Homo sapiens: one gene and its partners. The protein of the gene in region 1 interacts with the protein of each later gene in a pairwise test. Each region holds a gene or a part of one and is shown in the gene's direction. Other genes may lie near its edges.

Region 1 (5,731 bases):
GAAGGAACTTTAGAAGTTGTCTGAGCCAACCTTCAATGCGGGATTCATTTTTACAACAACCAATTAAATGTTCGTACAGCCTCTGCTTAATCACCTCCAGGAACAGGGAACTTACTACTTCAACCATATAGAATCCCTTAGGATTGGAAGCAAGGAGGAACACTGATTCAGTAGTGTCTGCACAAAAGATTTATGGGGAAAATGATAGCTCATTAATTTTTGCCTTGATTTGGAAGGGGAATGTTCCAAGTGAGTCTTTGGGATAATGATGGAACCAGAAAGGAGCAAAAGAGCAGTAGCTGATTATTCTCTGCTCTGAAACACAATGCCATTATTGAACAGCAAAACATTGTCTGCAAGCCTGTTGTCGTCTGAGAACAGTGGCTGTTACCCTGGTAACCAGACTGTGATGCCTCCATCCAAAAGTGGCTGTTTGCCAAGCAGTGTAGTTTTGGCTGGCTTGCAGTAAGTGGGTGTAGCCCAGGCAAAAAGTGTGGCGGCAGAGCGGGGGTCCAGTTTTATAAAATGCCCGAAGACTAACTGAGTCCCATCAAAATGGCAAGAATGCCCCAAGAATACCAGGAGCCAAAAATAAACCAGATCCCAGCCAGCATGTTCACCTAGTCTTCCTGGAGACACTGACTAAAATAATCAAGTGCAGCCTTCTCTACCTCACTTCTCCCTTTGGCCGTGCAGAGCCAGAGGAGTTCTTGGAAAGCCAGGCAGTTTGAAAGGTCTACCCTGCTTTAGGGGGCCTTGGGCTTGGCTCTGAGCTAGGAAAGCCAGAAGTTTACTTAACAGGCTGACAACTGGAACTGCTCTCTCAGAGCGATCTGAGTAATAACAACCTCAACCCTGGGAGGTGGGTGGGAGGGGAAATATAGTCTCCAAACCCATTAAGGTAGAACTCCAGCCAGTAACATCACTTTCCCCCATTGCTTTTGTCTATCGTCCTGAAGCCTTGAAAGCCATCCCCTGGGTACAGGTCTTTGTCTTGAAAGAAAGCAACAGTAGAAATGCCTTCCCTGCCCACAGCACTTCAGGTCTAAAGAAGACCAAGTGAGGACAGTGACATGATCAGGAAGGGTCACAGCAGCCATGGTAGGTGAATGGAGCAGCTTTTCCTTCCTTTCCTGCTTTCAGAGCCTACTCAGTGCCAAACTTACATCAAAAGCTCAGCAAGTACTGATTGATTAATCCCTCTTGCCTACGGCAAAATGGCCCTGAGGGCTATCTCTCAGCTCTGCACTGGCCTCTGAGCTGTCTGCCAGGCAGGGCTCTAGAAAAGAGTCCCAAGGAAGAGAATAAGGTTCCCCAAATCAGCTTCACACTGCAACAAGGAGAGAGGAGGAAATGGTGGGAGACTGACCTGAGGAACAAGGTATGGCTACTATTGTCTCTAGTACCAGTTACTTCCCTTTCATCTTCCCATTCGTGGGCAAGGTGGAGACAATGTGCCAAGGATAAGTTTTAACAATCAAAGTCCTACCTCAGCTTCCCAATGCTTGCACATAAATTGGAATGTGTACATCATTCATTCTGTCTCTCTCTGTGTGTGTGTGTGTGTGTGTGTGTGTGTGCGCGTCTGAAGAGGAGTGGGGAGTATAGGAAACAAGATAGTCCAGATGCTGTTGCCGTGGTAATACTAAATCGTGTCCAAAGAGGAGGCTGAGATTCCTTTTTAGTTAACCTTGTCCACATGATTTGACTATCCAGCAGGCTTGGATTCCCAGGCCCCAGAGACTTCGGGACTGTTTTCCAGCACTTGAATGTGGTATATAAGTGCTGATATCAAAAGGGATATGTAGGAAAGACAAGATTATAGGCAGGGCATTGTCTGACCAGGACGAGGCCCGAAGCAAAAGTCTTTGTTTGTCTCTGGCACCTCTTGATAATTGTTGTTTTACTCCTAGAACCCACCCACTGATCCCCATCCATCCCTAGTACCAGTCACGGCTGCTCTAGCATTTCGGCCTTGTCAACTACTGCAGGCCCTGATCAAGGAGGCCTCTGTTCATGGGGTAAGGTTAAGGGGTGGGTTCTGGGAGGAGGGTAAGACTGTAGTGCAGATTCGAGACCTAGGGAGGTGGGGCCAGTTTCTCACTCAATGAGCCTGCCTGTTGTTTAGCTCTATTGTATAGGGTTCTTCTATCTCTCCCTTTGTCAGCTGGATTCAAGGGACAGGCTGGGAATTGTGCAGGGTACAATTGGTCTCTTTCTACCATTCCTTTCGATGAAAGCCCTTCCTCTCCTTCCTTTGATGAGTTCCCAGATTCACACTGAATTTCCATCATGGAGCTGGTCCTTGAGGCGGGCCCAGGGCATGGGAAAGGAGGGAGGGAGGGTTGGGAGCTCTTGGTGCCTGCTTAAAGAGACAGCATCAGGATCAACACAGTCCCTTGATGAACCTGGATCTGTGTAAGTCACATTGGTTCTGTTGATCTCTGTCAGACCGCTGTGAAGAGCGCTGGTGAGAAGGGCTTAAAGTTGGAGTATCAACTATCACAGATTGATTAGACTTGTTTTGGGAGTTTGTATACAAATGTAGCCAACCATGACATGATCTTTTCCCTTTGCTTACATTTTGCCCACACAACTTCGTTATATCCATTTTAACACTTGCTTATAGGTAGCTTTAGATTTTGATTCACAGACATATGTTTGTTCACCCCAACAGGATTTCAAGTTTTCTAAAGAAAGGGACTGGCCTTTTAATTCCCTTCTGTTTCTCCTAATGTCTATGTCACTGCTAGTGTGCTTAATTCTTGTACTGAATTCACATAAACAGAAATGAAAGAAAAACACTGGAGGGGGTCATTATTTTTCTCTATGACCTTTCATCAAAGTCAGGTGGCTTAATCTGACTGAGTTGCATTGAGAAATGTTATTACTATATGGTTCTTTTATGCCAACTCTCTCATCTCGCAGTCTGTACTTAGACTGGAAATGTGAGAATGTCTCTTGAGAGAGCCAAGGAACTTCTCCCCTAGAATCTCTTCCAGCCTTCTTGAATCAAACTCACACCCTTTCAACCAGGAGGGGTTCTGAAATGGAGAGCTTTTGGCTTTAGGCTATTGTTCACACATACCCAAGGGACATTTCTTGGACTGTGAAAAATCAAAGGGAGCCCAATGGATCTTTTCTCAGAATGCTTTGATTGTCAACTACTTTGATGAAAAAATAATTTCTTGCAGGCTCTGAGTTTTTCTCAGTTAGAATCTAAAATCTGATTCTTGCTTGGACAGACTGACTGAGATTCTTCACTTCTGCTGAACTTAAATGCCCCCAAAGCAAACATTTCATCTAGGTTGTGAAGAGATGAACATCTGATGCTTATGCTGATATTACTGAATTGTTTATAGCTTAATAGTGATAGATTTATCTAAAGTCATTTATTTCAGACTTTACATTAGAAACTCATTAAAGCCTACTTCTTTCTTGTCCCTTGCTTTGAGCTGTAGTGGAGCAGAAAAGGGGATGCTAAGTTATTCAAGTTCTAAGAAAATAGAGGAAAAATGGATGTAAAAAGAAAGGCTATGATCTGGTGACTCAGAATTGCTCCTAAGGCTTAGCCATTTATCACCCAGTAAGAACACAATCCATGACACTCTCAGGTTATTTGGATGATGATTGAGGGATCAGATACACTCAAGAGGATGTTTCCCTCTCATCTTTGCAACCCTAGAGGTGGCATCACCTAACGCTTAAAGTGGAGTTCTCTTTTGGCTAGCAAGAGTTCAAGTTCCTCCATCCCTGACCATACCTGCACAAGCACTTAGCCCTTCCCAGATGAAAATGCTGGGATGAGTGAGTAGGCCCAAGATGGTCACTTGCTAGGGTGGATGGCTCTTCTTACCCTCGGCTAAACAAACAGTCCTGCCATTGTTCCCTGAGTCTGACCCCCTCCCCACCCCCCGGCTGCAGGCCCCTGTGGAATACCAATCAGGCTCCTGAGATCTCAGGAAAGAACAAGGCTTCTTTGTCCGGGGGAGCTATGGAGGGCTCTGTCCAAGCCCTGACCCTGTGCTGGGGAGAAAGGGAACAGTGGGGTCACTGACCTTCTTCTCCCCCCATCCCCAGGCTTCAGAGACTTTCTTTACTAGAAAAGTCTAAGAGTTTGGGGGTGGGGAGGAGTTGGATAGGCAGAGAAGGAAAATGGCAGTACTGTTTACTTCTAAGCTCCTTTTCTTGACTTATAGGCTGAATCTAGTATCTTAACCTGTTGAGAAAGAGGAAGATCAATTTCTGGAATGTTTTCTGAGAACAACAATCGATTTCAGTTGTTGTGTTTTTCTCTGTGGTATACATGTGTGTATGTGCACATTTGTACACATGCATGCATGTGCGTGTGCACACACACAGACACACCCATGGGCCAGCTCTGAAAAGACACTCTTCCCAAGCACGTTTGCAAAGTTCATGCTGAGTAAACTCAGCCTCCACTCACAGCAGCACAGCTACAGATTGCTTCTTATAGAGGCCAAGTTTCCTGGCAGCAATGCTTTAGTTCTTGGAAAAGGAAGTTCTGCTCCAAATGTTAGCTGCTTACTTTGTTTGGCTTGGGCTTCTGAGGCTCATCTTTGGTGTGACACTCTTTGAAGGCCAAGAAAGGGCTGTCATTTCAGGGGATGGTGGGTAATAGGACTCACTCCTTTTGTGTCTCTGAGAACAGAGGCAAATGCCTCTACCTCGATTTTCCCATGACAGAGATAATTTGATCTTTCCAAATCTGTTCACACTGATGCAATTCAGCCATGTAAATCACTAGGTATTCATGCTCTCTGGGCTAAAAACAAACTGTAACTAATGTTAACAGAATCAGGAAAAGGAGTCCCCTTTCCCTGGTACCCTATAGAAAAGTGAGTGTGGCTTGGAGAAATGCTTGAATACAAAAATCCAAGCCTAAGTAATTAATACAATTTATTTTTATTGTACAAGCTGTCACAACCTGCTTATTCAAAAATAGCAGCTTCCCAGTACATTTGCTGAGTATTTGTGTGTGTGCATGTGTATACTGTGTTTATAGATATATAAAATCAGTGGGTATATATACATATATTTATATATATACATACATATGAATTAAGACATTTTTTCTGAAGAGCTTAACATTCTCATTTCTTCTACATTTTAGGGATCTGGCCGAGAGGCCAGAGGAAGCCATTCTTTTCCTCATCTAGTCAGTCATCTACTTGGCATTTGCTAAGGTTCACTCCATATGACATCTTAGAGCATGGGACTAGTACTTGGAACACAGCTGCTTTCAGAGCCTGTGACTTCTTGTGTGCCTCTCCTGTTTCTCAGCAACACTGGCATAGGGCCTGGGATACCAGGTCTGGGGATCTCAGGGACTCTTAGCACTTTAAGACACATGTGTTCCCAGGCCCTGGTGTGTTCCTCTAGTGCCAGAAAGATGTTTCATGCTTTGCTGACTTTGTATAAAGTCTGTTTGTAGCTGTTTTGACAGAATCTCAGCGTATAACTGAGGGTGGGGACATTAGCCAAGCTGCATTATAGGAGGACAAAACTGCCATACAAAGTGTCCAAAATCATTAAGCCTGCATTTTTATTATTGGGAGTAATATCAAACCTCCTATTTTCCAATTTTCATTTCTTGTCCTGTGCTAGCTCCATCCTGTTTGGACTGCTCCTCCCATATGTAAACTAAGAAGAATCAAGCATTCTTTGCAACAAATACACACGATGCTCAAAAATGTCCAGGAGCATCCAA
Region 2 (5,008 bases), on another chromosome or scaffold:
AGGGTGTATTGAATTTTCCCTTATTTTTACCCTATATTTTGGGGAGAGACCATAGCACTTTATTCAACAAGATAGGAAATTGGGGAGCTGGATTAGTTACCTCCCTGCGTGACTTTGTCTACTGTCCTTTCTAAGGTCATCATAGTACATTACGGAGATTTCAGACCTAGCTCAAATCGTTGTAAAGAGTTATTTTGGGGGCTCTTATCACTGTTTGTGGTTGTGTTCTCCTGTCTCCCTGCTCATTGGCTTCAGAAGAAGTTTCTGTGGTCCTCTGTAGATGGTCTAATGAATTAAGAAGGGGCCAGCGGTCTGAAGTAGCATCCTGTTCAGGTAATAGGTGTGCATTTTGTCAAGGGCTCCCAGCAGCAGTACCGTAACACAGCAACTTGACAAGTTCAGTGGGGGAGGGGCAGGCATTTCTGTGCCCTCCAGATCTCATCTACTAGGTAGGCAGCTGTCTTGTGATTAGCTACGCTCTCTTGACACAGAGCACCAGAGCTTCCTTGGTGGCTCTCATCTGCTTTCCAGTGGTACAGCAGTGATTCCCTGTAAACCAGCTAAGTCAGTATCTTTAAGTGACATTTGCTTAACTGTCTTCCCTGAAAAATTGGGGTGAATTTGGCTGTAGGTTAGTTTTTAGTATATTTGTCTCTGTTTTCCACCAGATTATAATCTTTTTTGGGGAGGGACTTTTTACCCCCTTCGAAGCATCTTGTGCTTTTTAAACCAGATAAGAATATGTATTCTTTATTTGATTCAGAAAGAATGGTCAACAACTTGAAACCAGCTTTATATAGAAGCACATGGCATTAAATACAATGCTTCAGAATCAGTGTTTCTTTCCTTCTTTGTCATTTTCCTTATAATGGTAAGTGCCAGTGTAGTTTTCCTTGTCTTAGGAGAATTCATACCTGATGACTATAATGGTTTGTGAGAAAAACCCACACTCTAGGTTTCAGGCATTCCCAAAGGAACGACCTATAGATGCCATAACTCTAGTATTCACACTTGCCGTGCCAGCCCAAATTAGGACTTAGGAGGACAAGTTTCTCTTGTATTGCTCCCATCTTAGTGCCTGTCAGTTCCAAGTTTCACTCCTTTCTTAAAACAGCCACTGCAACTGTCTGTCCTTGATGATATGTATGCAATAGCCAAGCCTCTCTTCAGCTGTTTTAACATTGCCTCATGACAGTCAGGGGAGAGATAATGGGGTGGGATCTCAGCCACTCAGCCCCGCTGTGTGCTATATTGTACGCATAGGCATAAACACATCTGTTGGAGGGAAATTTTCAGGGGGAAAAGGCTTCTTTAACTTTCATATGGCATGAGTGACTGATATGCGATACATACATGGCTATTTCAGAGCATCTGCACTTTTATACAATTAACTAAATGTTGAATTGCACACTATTGGGGCTGCAGATGTTCAACACAATTATCTATTCCATAATAATAGCTCTAATAGGTCCCAAGCCCTTGGAGTCATTGATTCCTTTTCTTTGCTCAAAATAAGCAAGCTAAGAATAGTCTTGGGTGCTGTATCACTGATCCACGTACCAAGAGCCCTGTAACAGCCTGGGTCTCCTTGGTGCTGGACCTCCCATATCCAGCCTCTTCATACTGATTCAGCTCAACAGACTTTTTCTCTTGAAGCCTGAATTACAAAACCAGAGCTTTTTTTTTTTTTTTTTTTTGACGGAGTCTCGCTCTGTCGCCAGGCTGGAGTGCAGTGGGTGCAATCTCGGCTCACTGCAACCTCTGCCTCCTGGGTTCAAGTGATTCCCCTGCCTCAGACTTTTGAGTAGCTGGGACTACAGGTGTGCGCCACCATGCCCAGCTAATTTTTGTATTTTTAGTAGAGACAGGGTTTCACCATGTTGGCCAGGATGGTGTCGATCTCTTGACCTCGCAATCCACATGCCTCGGCCTCCCAAAGTGCTGGGATTACGGGCATGAGCCACGGCGCTTGGCCGCTTTTTTTTTTTTTTTTTTTAATTTTTGGCCAATTGGTATTTGACTCTAAGCTTCCTTTGTGATTCTCTGTCGATATGTTGTTCTTACTCTGCACCTCTGCACGGAATTCTGTCTTTTTTCTTTTTCCTCTTAAATAACCTGGGAAAAATTCACTATCATGCCTAGCCAGATTCTAGAACTATCCTGTCTCCCTTCACTCCTGGTAGGAGGGGCATTTGTGAGTCTGGGTGATGGAAACATTGAGAAACCTAGTATCCCAAATAGGTAGAAGCAGGCTGTGTGTTTCCCCAATGACATCACCCACCTGTTTCCCTCACTAAGTGGCTCTGCAGGCTGAAGTGCTTGTAAACATTCTTGCGTATAAAGTACCCTGACCCTAACGGGGCAGCCTGTGTTTACAGAACAAGAGGAATGTCCAGTGATCTGTTTCAACCTGGTTACTTGTAACCACCTAGCCTATGTAATTATTAAAAACATTAAAGATTATTCACAGAATGAAATAGGACTTATTTTGCAGAATTAAAATAGCAGGAAGAGCGGAAGAAAGTTGTATATTCAGACATGAATACTTCTCATACCCATGAAATGGTCAGATAACACTAATGAAAAAGAGGAGAAAAAATATATATAGAGAACCAAAAAATATTAGACAAACATGAACACTGAATACCTACTACATGCCAGGCACTGTGCTGGACACTTTTATGTTTATTAATGAGGGACCTGCTATTTATTGAATTCTTACCATGTTCCAGGCAGTAAAACAGATGTATATTGTGTATTTTGTCATCCGTCCTTTCGAAAATAAGAAAATTCCTTGCTATTAGGCAGCAAGATGCCAGATGGCCTAGTCCTTAGCTCTTCAGCCAGATTGCCTGGGTTTAAATCCTAATTAGGCTGTTCCTTAAATATGTAGTCATGGGAAAGTTACTTAATCTTTCTGTGCCTAAATTTCCTTTTTCTGCAATATGGGGATAATAATACTATTATTATTATCATGAGGGTTTCATGAAGCTTAAAGGAAATAATCCATGAAAAGCACTCTGAACATCAACCAACATGTAATAAGTGCCCAGTAATATTAGCTGTCTTTATAAAACTACTTAAGAAATGAATTATCTGTGTCTTTGCAAAGATATTTGATATAATTTCCAAAATTTACCTTTTATGGTAAAAAATATCCAAAGCTGACCTCAGATTACAGTGGTTATAAATATTAATATGTACTACCTGTAAAACTAGAGAAAAGTGGATAAGAGTGTCAAATTCCATAACTGCATATATACATTATGAAAACAGTACTGAACTCAATCTAAATATTGAAAGTAGAGTGAGGTGCAACATAATTTTATCTCTGGCAGAAAAATGTTGAGGTTTCAAGCTATGAGAAGATTTTGAAACATGACTCTTTTTTCTGGCAACACTTAAGAGTTGATGCTTAAACCTCACTTTATTGTATAGAATACATAATCTTCTCTTTTGGGACTCGTATAAATTGCAGCAATTGAAAAACAAAAGTGTGCACCAACCTGCCCCTCACTATCTTTTTATCAAGCATAACAGTATATTGCCAGCAATGTTCATAGAATTGAGTGCAGGTGTTTCTAAATATAAACAAAATAAGGAATATATTAAATTCACATTTCTAGTTTTTTATTTCCTCCTCAGCCTTCCTAGAATGGCTATAGGTAGTGTTTAAAGTTCTGGAAGTGTGATAGATTCTTACCAAATCAATGTTCTGTTAGCATTCTCCAAGTAACAAGTTAAATTGGATTTGAACAGTACTGATAGTTTATCATGTTCTGTTAGGATAGATGAAAACAAACCAAATGCCAGTATTTTGGGTGAGTCACTTTATTTGCTCAAAGACGCAAATGAATGAACTTCTGGTAGTTTAGTTAACCCTGGAGCTCCCCCTCTTGACAAATAGAAAAAACAAAAAAATAAATCAGATAGTATTAGCTTGAAAACGGATTTCTTTTACCCAGATAAAAAATATGCCACTAAGGTACATACAATGAAGTTTTCTTGAAGGAACTAATGATATTTTGGATTTCTCCTAATTTTGTGCATGTCTGCACTTGTGTGTGTCCTTGTGTATGTTTTAATGGGTTAAAAAAAAAAGCGAGCTACCAAAATACCAATAGATGTCAGTGTTTGTCGCTTTAGAAAAAGTGAGGTGTTAGAAAAAAAGAAGAAATGGACAGCTTTATTTATTTTTGGTTTTACTAAACATAAAGCTGGCTACTTTTCAACAATTGACTAATAATTCACTGTATATAACCCTGTTTACAAAAGTACATTTTATTAAGGAAAATATTCCATGTTCTCATCTTTCTTCTAAATTTTTTTAAAAAAGCCTCTGCAGTAAATTCCCAAAAGAATTCAGAATGTAGGCAGAAAATATGTTAATTTTTTAAAATTAGGAAACAAAATTATTTGAGAATGTCGTTAACACATTAGATTTCTTTTGCATTTTTAAACTAGAAATTAGATATGCACTTTCTTATGTTGCCCTGATTATGACTGATAAAGTGCATTTTTCAGTCCAAGTCAAGTGAGATCTGTGGAGTTCTGCCTCTACATAAGAGCAGAGATGATCAGAATTCTCTTCATTCTTCCTATGCCCCATGTCACCTTTTTCTGGCCTCCAGAGGGTGCTCCAGGAGCATCACACTGCTATTCCCCAAAGACTGCTTTTTTCTTCTCTCTCTCTCTCTTTTTTTTTTTAAGTTACTGCAGTATTCTGGGCAATCTACTGGAAGAACAGAGTCCCGATTCCATACATGTTAGCTGCCTCAACTGGAGTTTGTTTTCCAGCTGGACCACATAGCCCTAATTCATTAAGTATTCTAAATTAGAATATTTTAAAACATTATTCTGATGATGTTGATGCAGTGGTTAGCTTGCAAGGGGACATCTGTCAGATTAATTCCCTCTAGGAATTTCCCCCAAGAGAATCAAGCATCTTTAAATACCTTCCAATCACGCCTTACAACAGCTCCCTCCCACTGAAGTGCACATGGTACCC
Region 3 (5,008 bases), on another chromosome or scaffold:
AACCACGCTGTTGGTCTCACCTTATATTTATGGCCACAAACCTAAAGTGGGTTTCACATTGTCCAACAATCTTTCTCTAAGCCCCTAGTTATGTCCTCCTTCTTCTTTTCCAAAATGACTATTTTATATTTCTTCATTTTAGCCCCATATGCACTCCCGTCCCTTCACCATCATCATTCTCAGTGGTTGACTTTGCCTCCTACTCATTGAGAAAACAGAAGCTATGATAAAATGGAAGCAATGAGAATGGAACTGTCGTGTTTCCATCACTAAGTGTACCCAATATCCTGCATCTGAACCCACATTCCCAGTCTTCTCTTTAATTATGGTTGGAGCATCCCAGCCCTGATCAAAGGCCAGACTCCTCTTCTCGATTCCATCTCCCCTCACCTACTTCATTGGCTACTCCTCATCTCCTGTGCTATCTCTGCCTTCTTTGCTAATGTCTAAAGATAGGAGTCCCCCAAGGCTCAGTCCTTGGATCTCTATTCTTTATTTGTTCTTTCATAGGCAATCCCATCCATTTGCATGGCTTTAAGTATCTAACTGCCTGACAGCTCTGCTTGAATATCTACCAGTCACTTCAAACCTCTCACGTTCCCCCCATGCTCTTGCACTTCAACCAGTCTTCCCTATCTCCAGCTACCCAATCGATTAAGACAAAAACCTAGGTTATCCCTGATTTCTCACTTCCCCTCCTCACTCCCGCTATGTCTTTACCCAATCAAACAGAAAATGTCACCAACTTACCTCCAAAACCTACCATTTTGTTCACTTCTCTCCACCATGACTTCTAATCTGAGGCACCATCACTTTTCTCTTGGATTCTGCAAATAGTCTGACTTCCACTCTTGTCCCATGAACCCATTCTTCTAGGGGATTTTAGAAAATATAAATCCAATTATGTCATTTCCTTCCAAAGCTTCCATTGCCCTTGGAATAACCAGATTCATTTCTAGGACCTTCATTTTCTCACCCTCCACTTTCCTCTTATATTTCAGGCACACAGATATCCTTTCTATTCTTAGAGCAAACTAAATGATTTCTTTAAGACATCTTAATTTCCATTAGGTGCTTTTTATTTTCTGCTTGAAGTGCTCTCTTTTGGTTATTAAGGTCTCAGTTTGAATGTCACTTCCCCAAAGAAGCCTTCCCCAACCCTGAAATCCCAGATAGCCCTTCTGAGTTGCTCTGCTATATCACCACATTAAATTTCATGCACATAACTCAACACTTTTCAAAATTATCTTTTTTGTGTATTTGTTTACTTGTTCATTGTATGTCTCCCTCCCCTGGAGTGTAAGCTAGCTGAGGGCTAGAATTTTGTTTGTCTTATTCACCGCTGTATTCCCAGCCCCCAGAATACCTGACACATGGTCAAAGTTTGTTAAAATGAATGAATGAATGAATGAATGAATGGAAGAGACTCAGACAGGTTAAGTAAATTGTCCAAAGTCACAGAGCTAACAAGTCATCAAGCCATGGTTTGAATGCAAAATTTGGAGCTTTGTGTGGCTCCAAAGCCCATGTTTCCTGAACACTTCCCTCTACTGTCACAAAAAGCCATGTGTTCAGGACTTCAATTTACAAAATACTTTTGCATGCATTACCTAATTTGCTCCACATTGTAACCCGGTATGATATAATCATAGCTTTGCTTTTTCCAGATGTGGAAACCAAGGCTCAGAAAGGTTTAGTAATTAATCCAAGATCCCTCTCAGAGAAATAGAAGGGCTGGTAAGTAGCAAGGCAGGAATTCACTTCCCAGGAATTATGTATGGGTATGTGGCACCCAACCACACCACCTCTGAAGCTCACATTCTCACGCTGATAATCAAGGGTATTTTATACATGAGAACGGCTCATCAGGGCCATTCATTAGGAATCTAAGTGGGGAGCTGGAAGCACATTAAATGTACTGAGGCTAGGCCAGGTGTGGGGGCTCACATCTGTAATCCCAGCACTTTGGGAGGCCAAGGCAGGCAGGATTTCATGACCAGCCTGGGCAACATGACGAGACTCCATCTCTACAAAACAAACAAACAAACAAACAAACAAAAAAAAAACAAAAAAAAACAACTAGGTGTGGTGGTGTTCATCTGTAATCCCAGCCACTTGGGAGGCTGAGCTGGGAGGATCACTTGATCCCAGGAGGTCGAGGCTGCAGTGGGCTGAGATTGTACCACTGCACTCCAGCCTGGGTGACAGAGTGAGGCCCTGTCTCAAAAAAAGAAAGAAAACAAAAAGAAAAGTACTGAGGCTAAACAAAGCCTTGCTCCTGAAGAAAGGAGAGGTGTGGGGGTCCTATGGCAACTACTGTGGGTTTGCACAAAGGTCCCCAGATCATAAAACAAAGTGGTTTGGGGATCTTGGAAGGTTACAGGGGTGGACTTCAGTGTCTTGTACGAGACAAGGCATTTTAGAGTAAATTGGACATGTCCTAAGGTAAGGATCTGTGTCCTTCCACAGGTCTAGCTTTCTTGCCTGCCAGTGTGTCCTACCTCATTGGCACCAACCTCTTTGGTGTGTTGGCCAACAAGATGGGTCGGTATGTAGCCTCGGGATCTGGGACGAACAGTAGAAATGTAAGATGGAAGAGCGCCCGTTCCTGATCTTGGAATGATGAACAGCTTCCATACGGTTGAAAGTTTAGGATGAGTACACACCGATAAAAACTTCCCACTGGGAGGATGGGCAGTGAGTGAGTGGTGAGGGTGGTATGGAGAATGGATTGTCCTGAGCTCTGAGCTGATTGTTATAGAAGAGGCAGTGGATACATGAGGGGCACCCCTTACTTTCCATCCATTTGCTGTCCAGTTGAGGAGATAAAATAACCACAACAGAGAACAGCTATGAAAAATGCAGTACTTTGGGAAAGTAGTTTTCAAATTATGTTCTGTGGAATCCTAAGGAGTTCTATAGAGGCACCCCAGAGGCCACTGAGGAGGAAGGGTTGGGGGCCAAGAGCTATGAGTCTCCATTCTGTCCCTTCACTACAATAAGGACAGCTTTAATTTTATCTTTGGAGTTTAGCATCAAGATTTTAGAAGCACTGCCATAGGACATCAGAGAAGGAAAGAAGTTTGGTACTTTCTGTGTTTTTTGAGACAGACCTCAAGGACCAAATAAAATAGGACAGGTAGGAGGCAGTCTGAGCTGGGCAACAGCATGAGTTAAGTTTGAGGGCTACTTCTAAGGAACAAGTGCCTCCTGAGTCAGCTGATTCCTCCTGTAAGGGAAGGAAGAGTGTGTCCCACGGCACCTCCTCTGCCTTTCTATAGAAAAAGGGATGGAGCCAGGGGAGACAAGGAAAGGGCAGGGAGAGAGCTCATTTGGGTACAAACTGGTCATGTAGGGATGCTGTCCTCAGGTCCTAAGGGGTTGCTGGGATTAGGGCTGGTGGGACAGGTCAGCATGGCGGTGATGGGGTACAGGTGGAGGGGAGCTCTCCCCTAGTGGTGTTTGATGATGGCTTTTTTCTTCCAGGTGGCTGTGTTCCCTAATCGGGATGCTGGTAGTAGGTACCAGCTTGCTCTGTGTAAGTATAAGAAGACCTGGGGGAGGGGAAGGAGAGAGAGAGCGAGAGACAGACAGACAGAGAGAGAGAGAGAGAGAGAGAGAGAGGGAGAGAGAGAGAGAGAAAGACACAGACATTTAAAGACTAATTTCCTTTAAGATGAGCAGAGATGGCTTGGCAAGGACTGTCAGAAAGACTGTTTCTGAATAGGCAGGAATTTAGCACGGGGGAAGAGGCCACCAGCTGCAGTGGCTTTCCTTTGAGGGGAAGTGGGAAAGGAGAGGAAGAGGGCTGTAGGGCAGCTGGAGCCGGAGGTCTGAGGCTGTACATGTGGGCATATGAAGTGATACATGTTGGTATCCATTTCTGGGGATGGCAAAATGGTGCGTTTTATGACTTCATTTACTCATCCCACCCTGACAGAGCCTCATAAATCCCCAGGGAACCATCATCTATGTCCCAGTCTCTGGCACCAGAGGCTTGATAGAAGAAGAAAGAAAGAAGGACTTTTCCATTTCCAAGAATCCCCCTCAAGTTCTCAAAGCCTTCATTTCCTCCTCTCCCCAGTGGGGATGAGAAACACACAAACCTCCTAGGCCTGAGGGAGAGAAGAACAGGGCTACAAGGCACTGTAAACTGTGCTCAAGACCAGCTGGAGGTCCTGAGCAGGAGCATGGGATCCGGGTTCCATGGCAGGTTTTGCCACTTTCTATGCATGTGACTTTGAGCAGGTTACTTCATCTCCGTGTGCTCAGCATCCTCATCTATGTAGAGAGGGTTCTGATGGTGTCCACAGGGTTGTCAAGGTAATCCAAATAAACCACAGTGTCTGGCACATGGTGAGCCCATAGTGAATCTCAGCCAATACTATTGATAATTTATAAACATTTCTTGAGGCATGAACCCTAAAAATTGTTATCAGCCAGCAGCATCTAAACGGTATGCTAAACCCTTAAGGGGTGAGTGTCCTGGGGTAGCAGGTTTGAATGGCAGGTACCCAGAGAGGGAGGTAAGGAACCTGAAAAAGAGGGAAGAAGGGGTTTTTGTTGGGGGATTGGGAGGGCAATGGGAATGAGTCTCACAAGCTTCCTGACAGGGGACCCAAGCCACACCACCTGCCCCCTCTAGCTTACAGCTAACTGGTTGTTGGGGCCTCTTCTCTATCTTCTTTTTCCAACAGCTACCAAGTTAGAAGTCTAAATGAAACCTTTCAGTGATGTCCATAATGGAAAACAGAGGCAACTTTATTCCATGAAGAATGAGACCAGGAGTGTATGTTTAGGTGAAGAGGGGTAGAGGAAGGGGAGAAAGTATCCATGGAACAGAGGAAGACCCTCGTTAGAGCATAATGGAGCCAAGTCTGAGGTCCAAACTTGATCTTGCCACTCATTAGATCTGTAACTCTGGATAGAGCAATAAATAAACACAACAGCGCTGGTCAAGTTTTCATATCCTTAAAATGGAGGTATAGATTCTTTTCCATGAGAAAGT
Region 4 (3,794 bases), on another chromosome or scaffold:
TGGACAGAATAAACGGCCGGCCCTGAGGGTGCAGAGGGAAATAGCCTTGGGGAGAGAGAGGAGGGGTTCCCAGAGCTGGAGGGATGGCCATCTGGAGGGGACGTGGAGGAGGAAGTGCCAGTAAGCCCCAGTGGTGTCATGCCATTTCCCCTTGTGCCCAGGCCTGCCCGCCCTGATGGTCATCGGCACTGGGAGTGCCAACAGCTACGGCCTCTACACCATCCGTGATAGGGAGAACCGCACCTCTCTGGAGCTGTGAGTGGCGGCTGTGGGAGCAGGGGTGATGCCAGCTCCCCGGCTACACATATTGGGGCTGGAGAGAGGTGGGGAGAGGAGGGATTTCTAGGAAAATCTAGACCAAATATGTCAAGACCAGAAGAATCCTCAGATCCAGCTAGCTCATGGCACAGAGAAGTAAACTGAAGCCTAGAGAGAGAGAGGGGAAGTGAAATGAGAGAGGGGGCCTGAGAAAGGAGAGGGAGAACTGGACCAGGAGGCAGGATGCCTTACTTGAGCCTGGGCCAACACGAGCCCACATGGCACCTTGAGGCAAAGTAAAGAAGGTCACCCCGTCCGCATGCGGGGTGCGCAGCCTGGAGAGTGGAGGGTGTGTTGGATTTCAGCCCCCACCTGCTGCCCAGCCAGGTGTCCTTGTTCAGGCCACCACCTGCCCAGTGATTCACAGTAGCCCTGGGTCTAGTCTGGGCTCTGCCCTGCCTGCTATGTGTGTGATCTTGGCAGGCCCGATCTCTCCCAGGGCCTCAGTCTCCTCATCTGCACCATGGGGGAACTGATCAACATGCTCTTTGAGGCCCTTTGCCCCTGCAGTGCAGAGGGCAGTGGAGCTGAGTTCAGTTTCTAGACTCACACCTTGGGATCCATGGGGCACCCACCACTGGGCCCATGGCTCTGTGCTAAGAGGAGCTGGTGAGGCCTTGGACCTGTCCCCAGGCCTCAAAAGCAGGGGCCCCAGGAGCTGGAGGGGTCACAAAGGTGCAGGCAGTGGGCCAGGTGGGGACTGCAGCGGACTGGCAGTCACAAGCCCATCTAATTAGCGGTCAGTTACTATCCTTCAGGAGGGCATCCACAGAGCTGCCAGGTGTATGATTTTATAGGAGAAGCAGAAATCTAGGTGTTTATACCAAAGCTTCTGATTTTAAAGGCGGCCACTAATTCCGTTTTTTTCACAATGTAATATGGGGCAAATGAAACATGTCTTTGAGGTCACTTTGGCATTAAAGAGACACCAGACTGGAGCCAGGTGACGGCCCCTCCCACAGCGGGAGAGCCAGGGATTGATGGGTGGAAATGGGAGAGGCACCTTCACAGACAGAAAAGCTCAGCCAGGGGACTTCCTGGGTTTGCTGGCCAGAGGTACCACTCCCAGTCCCACCACAGCTGCCCCCTCCTCCAGATGCTGGTTCCGTGAAGGGACAACCATGTACGCCCTCTATATCACCGTCCACGGCTACTTCCTCATCACCTTCCTCTTTGGCATGGTGGTCCTGGCCCTGGTGGTCTGGAAGATCTTCACCCTGTCCCGTGCTACAGCGGTCAAGGAGCGGGGGAAGAACCGGAAGAAGGTGCTCACCCTGCTGGGCCTCTCGAGCCTGGTGGGTGTGACATGGGGGTTGGCCATCTTCACCCCGTTGGGCCTCTCCACCGTCTACATCTTTGCACTTTTCAACTCCTTGCAAGGTGAGGCCCCTGCACCAGGGAGGTGATGGGCTGTGTTGTCTGTCCCAGGAGGTATTGGGAGGTGGGGAAGAGGGTGGTTTGCAAGACACAGGACTCTGTTCAGGCTAGCTGAAGTCAAGGATGTTGATTTCAAATACTCAGAGCAAGGATCCAGGGCAGCAAAGTTTGGCTGCTGTATTAGTCCGTTTGTGTTACTAGAATACAAAGGAATACTCGAGACTGGGTAATTTATAAAGAAAATGGGGTTAATTGGCTCATGGTTCTGCAGGCTTTAGACAAAGCACAACACCAGTATCTGCTCCTGGTGAGGCCTCAGGAAGCTTCCAATCATGGTGGAAGATAAAGGGGAGCCAGCGTATCACATGGCGAGAGTGGGAGCAAGGGAGTGGGGAGGCACCATGCCGTTTTAAACAGCGAGATCTCGCATGAACTCCAAGTGAGCACTCACTCATCACCAAGGGGATAGTGCTAAGCCATGCATGAGGATCCGCTCCAAGGATCCAATCTCCTCCCCTCAGGCCCCACCTCCAACATTGGGAATCACATTTGGACATGAGATTTGGAAGCAACAAACATCCCAGACATATCAGCTGCCTTCATGGGAGCTGCTACCAGAATCAGAAAAAGCCACCCAAACCAAAGCAGATACGTTCTCTATCTTTTTCCTGGAGCTATGGAGTCTCTCACCTAGTGTCTGTGGAAACTCCTTCATTCTCTCTCCACTTACCCTTTACTACCCATGGCCCCAAATTGTTACCCAACATGGCTGCCGTAACCCTACCTGACCTTGCAAGTTGGGTGTCCATCGTCCATCTCTGGTCCAATCAGCTGCGACCAGAAGGGCAGAATCATGTGATATGATGTCCACATGACATGGATGGGATCTCCAGGGATCTATGGAGGTAGGAAGGAAATGCTTGCTGTATTTGTTACTGGCCCCCGCAGGGCCCTTCCTCTGAGATCCCAGCAAAGGGGTAAGAGCAGTCCATGTGCTATGGTTTATATGTGTTCTCTTTGCTCCTTACATCCACAGCCCAGAGAGGCATCACAGTCTGACTGTGAGAGAAACAGCCAAGACAGGAGTGACGAGACTCAACCTGTTCAGGGAAGTCACTAGAAACCCAGGCGTCCTAGATGCAGCGGGTATAAGCCCCCAAGACCAGGACTGGCTCCCAGCGCCCCATGAGAGATGTGTGGCTTAGTGGCTAGGGCCAGGCAGCCCTGGGTCCAAATCCTAGCCCCATCCCTGACCCAGCAAGTCACTCAGCTCCTTCCGTCCTCATTCATCGCGAAATTGGGATAATCCCGTACTTATCTCACCAGCTTTTTTTTTTTTTTAATTGAGATGGAGTCTTGCTCTGTCACCCAGGCTGGAGTGCAGTGGCACGATCTCAGCTCACTGCGACCTCCACCTCCTGGGTTCAAGTAATTCTTCTGGTTTCAGCCTCCTGAGTAGCTGGAACTACAGGCACATGCCACCATGCCCAGCTAATTTTTGAATTTTTAGTAGAAATGGGGTTTCACCATACTGGTCAGGCTGGTCTCAAACTCCTGACCTCAGATGATCTACCTGCCTCAGCCTCCGAAAGTGCTGGGATTACAGGCGTGAGCCACTGTGCCTGGCCTGCCAGATTTCACAATGAACAATGACAATGCATATGTGGGAACTACTAGGTCTTCAATATGTGGGAACTATATTAATAATCATAGAAATTATGACTGTAAGGCCATCTGAGGCTGTCTCCAGGTGGAGAATCATGAGTCCATGCCTGGAGAATCCCAGGGGTTGATGGTTGGGGAGAAATGAACTTTGAAACTATAGCTGACATCGTTATTCTTTCAGAGGTTACCTTAATATGTAAGCCTGCACACTTCACTCTACTAAGTTTCCACTGGGTCTGAGTTATTCTGTATTTCTCTCTTCCTCTCCAATACAACAGAGCCCTTGGTATACTTGAATTGCCCATTGAACTCTTCTCAATATTTGTCTTGCATATAGAGGTTTAGTTACAGATTTCCTTGAAACATAGAGTTTTTCTAAGTCATGTTCTGTACTTACTATAATTTCTTTCACCCCACACTTTCCCTTTTCCTCT

What was found. Proteins that work in one complex are often made in the same cells at the same time.
Region 2: the proteins of PLP1 (region 1) and NRG1 interact in binary tests that used the Homo sapiens proteins (3 or more experiments, as listed by UniProt).
Region 3: the proteins of PLP1 (region 1) and SLC18A1 interact in binary tests that used the Homo sapiens proteins (3 or more experiments, as listed by UniProt).
Region 4: the proteins of PLP1 (region 1) and ADGRG3 interact in binary tests that used the Homo sapiens proteins (3 or more experiments, as listed by UniProt).

Annotation. Positions count from the first base shown.
Region 1 is NC_000023.11:103,778,890-103,784,620, forward strand, and holds part of PLP1 (myelin proteolipid protein), read left to right. Parts: intron 1-5,731.
Region 2 is NC_000008.11:32,550,234-32,555,241, forward strand, and holds part of NRG1 (pro-neuregulin-1, membrane-bound isoform isoform HRG-alpha proprotein), read left to right. Parts: intron 1-5,008. UniProt on the Homo sapiens protein: Direct ligand for ERBB3 and ERBB4 tyrosine kinase receptors. Concomitantly recruits ERBB1 and ERBB2 coreceptors, resulting in ligand-stimulated tyrosine phosphorylation and activation of the ERBB receptors.
Region 3 is NC_000008.11:20,148,206-20,153,213, reverse strand, and holds part of SLC18A1 (chromaffin granule amine transporter), read left to right. Parts: intron 1-2,469; coding exon 2,470-2,548; intron 2,549-3,486; coding exon 3,487-3,538; intron 3,539-5,008.
Region 4 is NC_000016.10:57,684,229-57,688,022, forward strand, and holds part of ADGRG3 (adhesion G protein-coupled receptor G3 isoform 1 precursor), read left to right. Parts: intron 1-161; coding exon 162-255; intron 256-1,414; coding exon 1,415-1,698; intron 1,699-3,794. UniProt on the Homo sapiens protein: Adhesion G-protein coupled receptor (aGPCR) for glucocorticoid hormones such as cortisol, cortisone and 11-deoxycortisol.